Linked DNA regions of Homo sapiens: region 1 is linked to region 2. The links come from fine-mapping of genetic effects on plasma protein levels. A gene starts in region 2. The other region holds a variant in brackets. All regions are shown on one strand. Distances are from middle to middle.

What was found. A credible set is the group of variants that fine-mapping cannot tell apart. PIP is the posterior inclusion probability: the model's chance that the variant is causal. The UK Biobank Pharma Proteomics Project read protein levels with antibody pairs (Olink). The fine-mapping took linkage between variants from a reference panel, not from the people measured, so its PIPs are less certain.
Region 1: its variant is the best candidate, but not a certain one, in a credible set for the plasma level of the DDAH1 protein (UK Biobank, PIP 0.82).

The regions. Positions count from the first base shown.
Region 1 is chr1:85,794,354-85,797,269 of GRCh38, forward strand. All of the region lies in intron 47 of COL24A1 (collagen type XXIV alpha 1 chain), which reads right to left. Among named protein-coding and RNA genes, the nearest start is that of ZNHIT6, 87 kb to the left of the region's middle. The variant T/A (reference allele first, on the strand shown) is at 1,273.
Region 2 is chr1:85,463,547-85,466,462 of GRCh38, forward strand. It overlaps DDAH1 (dimethylarginine dimethylaminohydrolase 1), which reads right to left and starts at 1,613. Exons shown (of 6, transcript NM_012137.4): 1 at 1,197-1,613. The coding sequence starts at 1,499. RefSeq lists silencers at 1,022-1,221, 1,462-1,871.

The DNA of each region.
Region 1 (2,916 bases), 330 kb after region 2:
TTCAGAAACTACTGACCACTCTTGAAGTCAAGATGTACTTTTGACTGAGAATAATAAGGAGCACAAAACTTGTCATTAGGGTTAACTGTAAACTAGCAACTTCATTTTACTTGCAGTGCCATCAGATATTTAACCCAGTAGAATGAATATAGTCCAAGTCATTTACTATGCTTGTTGGTTTCTTAGAGAGAAATTTGAGGATGATAGCAGAGTGTTCTGTTCAACGTTCCAAACAATGTTTCATACAAGTAAAGAACAAACATTTCTTATTACACAGATGGCTGATTAATTTTGTTTGCAAGAGAAACAGATGCTAACCCTAGGCATTCTTTCCAGTGTCTTCTAAATGATTTGTCTAAAACAATTCAGCCTATGTTAAATCATTCTGGGTAAATTTTAAAAAGTAAATATAATTATAATTATTATTAACTTTGGTCAGAGATGCCAAAAATCAATGAACAGCTTACATGTGTATTAAAAATTAATATAATTATAAGAGTACATGGTGTCGCATGACCAGAGACTTCCTTTATTCTCAGATAGGAGCCAGTCTCCCTACCGAAATAAGTTTTAAACCTAGCAGGAAAGTGTTGTCAGTTTTGACAGGACTGAAACCCATGGCTTCCTAAGCCTTTGGACTCTAAAGAAACAAGTACTTCGATCAGTAATGACAACAACAACATCAACCACAACTGCAAGAGTTGCTTTTTATTGAGTGCATTCCATTTGTCAGAAATGAATAGCATTATGGTTTGTATTATTTTATTTGATCTGGTGTCAGTTAAGGAAAGAAGGCATTGCTTTTCACTTTGACTTCCCTCTGGGAAAAGGAAGAAATTGTTTTAGTGCAAGTCTGCCTTCATTTTAGAACTGAATGGAAAGATCTGGGAAGGAAAATGGTGCTATATGCACACATTTAGAAAAAAGATACAGAGACAAATTTTGGAATGATGATTACTTATTTGTACATAATAGTGAAACATACCAAAGAAAGTGTCACTCTGTTATTCCCCCAGCTCCTTGGCTTAGCCGTCATATTCTCATTAGGATTGAAACAAATATATTAAAAAATAAGCAATAAAAAATAAAATTTGTTAAATCCAGGCAACGATAAAAATCTACATTCTAAAAATAGCTAAAAATATTATATTTAAAGTTATGCTGAGTGAAATTACAAATATTTCGAATATCAATTTTATTGATTTCTCATAGTAGAATGACAAAATGACACTGAACTTCATATTGGTTGATATTTTTCTTTAAAGTACTACC[T/A]TAACATTTTTCTAAAAAAAGTTTTTTCCTTTCTCTTCTGCCAGGCACCTTATGTGTACAGAGCATTATGTTTATATAGTTATTAACTATGTGAGAAGATAATAAGAAAAATTAATTTAAAATTAATTTACTTTCTGTAGTACAAATATAATATCCTAGATTATTAGGCAATGTAAGTACTATTTTTTTTCTTAAGCCAGCAAACCCAGAAGTTATATAAATAATACTTTACTTCCTTTAGTCTGAGCAACTCAAAACACTTCTGTTTAAGTAGGAATTTCTCGTTTTATTTGGTTTACTAAATATATCCCTTCCTGCAAAGGATTGGTGTTTAAAAATATGTGGGATGGTAATTATTAGGTGATTATATGCAAGGCTACATTTTACATAAATAATGTAGCATTCATAATATTTTCCTGCCGTGCCAATCATAAGTAATGTAGCCAATTGCTAGAAATAAGATTTATGAATGAGCTATATACTAAAGTTAGGAGGTAATTTTAGTTTTGAATTTCTAAACATATTAAAGCTTATGGAACTGAGAGTACAGCTGAGGCAGGTCGTAAGGTAGTGAAGACAGGTCTGTTTGACTCACATCAAGGGTATACAATCTCTTGCTCAACCTTAATGAATACAGGTATTTCAACATTGTTTTACTTCACAGAAATTATTTACAACTGATGTTTTATCAATCCTAAAAAATAGTGCAAATGTCACTATGATATTTGACAAAATAAAGGTATTTTATGAAATCTCCTTTACCCAGGTCTTGACATCCAATCACAGGACTAACAGGGACTGAAAGAAGATGTTTCATCTATACTTTGACTCTTAGATATGTCTGGGTTCACATCATTATAGAGAAATAAATGTCTATCCTTTTATTCAAAAAATTACAAATAATCTACTCATACTATCTTATTTGATTCTCCCACAACCCTGTGAACACACCAAACTCCATGAGGGCAGTTTTTTGACCATGATTAACTGCTATATTCCCTAACTCCTGGCTCTTAGTAGGCACGAAACAAATTATTTTTTGAATGAATGCATGTAAGCTTAACCATTTATATTTATTATTATGAAAAGATGATACCCAATAAATACATGCAGTGTACTATGCATTTTACATACAATATTTCATTTGATTCTTATAAAAACCATATGGATTAAGTATAATACTATTGTACTCATTTTATAAATGCTGCTTAAGATGTCAAATACCTATCGCATCTAGATTTTAAACCCAGGTCTCCAAGATCCTAACAACTATGCAAAGAACATTCAATTCCTGGCCGGGCACGGTGGCTCACGCCTGTAATCCCAGCACTTTGGGAGGCTGAGGCGGGTGGATCATGAGGTCAGGAGATCGAGACCATCCTGGGTAACATGGTGAAACCCCGTCTCTACCAAAAATACAAAAAAAAAAAAATTAGCCAGGCATGGTGGTGGGCGCCTGTAGTCCCAGCTACTCGGGAGGCTGACGCAGGAGAATGGCGTGAATCTGGGAGGTGGAGGTTGCAGCGAGCTGAGATCGCAACTACTGCACTCCGGCCTGGGCGACAGAGCGAGACTCCGTCTCAAAAAAAAAAAAAAAAAAAAAAAGAACATTCAATTCCCAAATGTTTATTGATCTTCTCCTAT
Region 2 (2,916 bases):
TTTTGGTTTTCTGTTAATGGAGGGTGAAATAAAAGCTGATTATCTCGATGAGAAATTAGTAGAATATGCTTATTTTCTCAGACCATGTGGCATTCCATCAACCAAGTAGTGGAGCAGGTGAGGAATAAGCATATTTTATCATAAGCTCTATGAGGCATTTCCAATGTGAAGTGAATACAGACAAAATAGAAAAAAAATTCTTAAATCTCCAGAAATGAAAGAAACCACTAGCTTCTTGCAATGCCACTGGATGCCAATAGCAACGGAGTCTTGAGCCTGGGCTCTTAACTGGCAATGAGAAGAATCCCAGGCCAGATGGCATTTTAAAATCCAATCTCACTCTATTTGTCTCTCCCCACTAACCTACATTGCACTTAAAGCAATCAGCCATTTCACAAGCTGCAGTATTTCAAAGTAGTTACAACCCTTGAGAACAGAAAAACTCTCTTAATTGCTGTGAGTTTAAAAATATAGAGAATAAAAATTATGGAATTTGTGAAACAACCATCTCTAATTAAACACGCTCGCTAGCACACACACCCAACACCGCACAGAGTACAGCTTTTCAAACCTAGCCCATTCATGCACACATTTAGCACAGCTCACCAACAAAACACTTTTCCTTCCATTCATTCACTTACTAGTCCCGTTCTTTGGGACTCACTCGCCACCACTGAAAACTAACTTGAGAAGCCCCAGGTCTGTGGGCACCGACACCCCGTTAATTCATCCAGCTTGTCCTGCTCCGAGCGCCAGGCAGGACTTGGGGGCTTCGGTGTCACGACTGGCGCTGCCCCCTGGAGGGACGCCCAGCCTCCACCCGCCCTACCGGAGCGGCACCCCTCGCGGCCCTCGCTCCCTGGGAAACACTCAGAGTTGCACTGTCGTCGCTGCCGTTTAATTTTCACAAATAAAAATGCCCGTGAGACGGAATCCCCCGCCCACCCACCTGCCCGAGACCGTACAACCACATTGAATCGGATCCTCCAGAAGGCTGCCGGCAGCCGGGAGGTGTGAACAATGAACTTCTCTCTGACTCTCTGACACACACACACACACACACACTCGCCCCCCGACGGGAAGTTGTGAACTACTAGCCCGAGGGCCAATGGCGCGACTCCCCAGGCAACACGGCGGCCGGCGGCGGGGGAGGGCCTGGCGCGCGCCCCGGCCGCGCCCCTCGAGTCGGCAGTTACCTCCTTCCTCCGGCTCGGCGCCCCGGGTCGGGTGATGAGGGCCGTCTCCTCGCACACCACGGCCACGTCCTCCACGAAGACGCAGTCCGGAAGGCTCTCGTCGGCCGGCAGCTCCACCACCTGCAGCCCCAGCTTGCTGCCCAGCACGCCCACGTAGAGCTGGTGCTGCCGTTCCGCGCGGGCGACGTCCACCTCCTCGCCCTTGGCGCTTCTCAGCGCGTGCTGGCCGAGCGACTCGGGTAGCGCCCGCACCACGGCGTGGGTGGCCCGGCCGAAGGCGGCGGGGTGGCCGAGCCCGGCCATGGCTTCGGGAGGCTTAGGGGCGGCGGCGGCGGCGGAGGCGGCCGGGTCCTGCCGCGGGCAGCGCGCGCTGAGCCTGCGAGCGCCCGTCGGCTCCTCTTGGCAGCCGCTGAATGTGGTGCAGAAGGAGCCCAGCTCGCGCCCGGAGCCCTGCCCGCGCGACTGAGCATGCCCAGAGCTCCGGGCGCCGGCCCGCGCGCATCCCGCGCGCCCACTCCGGCGCTCGCGGGTCTCGCGCCAGCCCAGGCGGGAGTTGTAGCGGCGAGCGCCGGGCGAGGAGTGGGGCCAGGAGAGGCGGCCGGGGAAGCAGCGAGGGCAAGAAGTATGCGGAGGCGGGGGACCTCGGCGAAAAGCCACCGCTACCCGGACCTGGCGGTACCTGTGTTCTGTCGCAGGTGCACACCTCCCATCGTCCCCAGCGCGGACTTGGAGAGCCGGCCTCGGTCTGGACAGAGCAGCTGGAGGGCTTCCTGGTCTTTACCTGAACAGTTTAAACCTTGCGTGCTTACAAAGTCTAGCCCACTTTTGAAGAGCTATAATGGTTTACAGATTCTTCATGTTGAGCTTAAATCCCACGGGTCCCAGTTCTGTTTTCTGGCCTTACCTAAAGTACAAGTTTTTCTTGTTTTGTGTGTGTTCGCGTGTGTGTGTGTTTTCACAAAACAGCATTTGCATATCTGAAAACAGTTCTAATTATCTATGCTGCCTAACACCATCCTCTACCCCCCACCCTAAACCCCCTCCAGTCCTGGAGCCCAAACCACTGAAAAGTAACTAGTGATTTGGTTTCCAAGTCCCTTCAACATTCTGGTCAGCTTCCTTTTGATACACACCAATTTGCTTGTATCCTTTTAAAATCATAGTATCCGGAAAATAAACAATTCTTCCTGTGTGGTCTGACCAGCACAGACTACAGCAGCACCCTTGTTCCAGATGCTGGGCCTCTATGAACACTGCCTAAGCCTGTATTCACTTTTTTGGTGGTCTAGGGCCAAGGCCCAGGCTACAGCCTTCTTGCCAGAACTCTGATCCCAGCTTTTAGGAAACTCTGGATTTCTAGGAGCAGGTCTCTCTGAGCATCCTAGAATGGTTGCCCCAACTGAGCCCAGAGATGTGATCTGCCTTCTCTCCCCTCCCACAAGGGTGGTGTGAATTTATAAATGAGCTTCAAAATTCTCAGCTTCACATTTGAGGAGTTTTTTTTGTTTTTTGTTGTTGTTTTGTTTTGACGGAGTTTCACTCTTGTTGCCCAGGCTGGAGTGCAGTGGCACGATCTCGGCTTACTTCAACTGCTGCCTCCCCAGTTCAAGCAATTCTCCTGCCTCAGCCTCCTGAGTAGCTGGGACTACAGGTGCACGCCACCACTCGCGGCTAATTTGTATTTTTAGCAGAGACAGGGTTTCACCATGTTGGCTAGGCT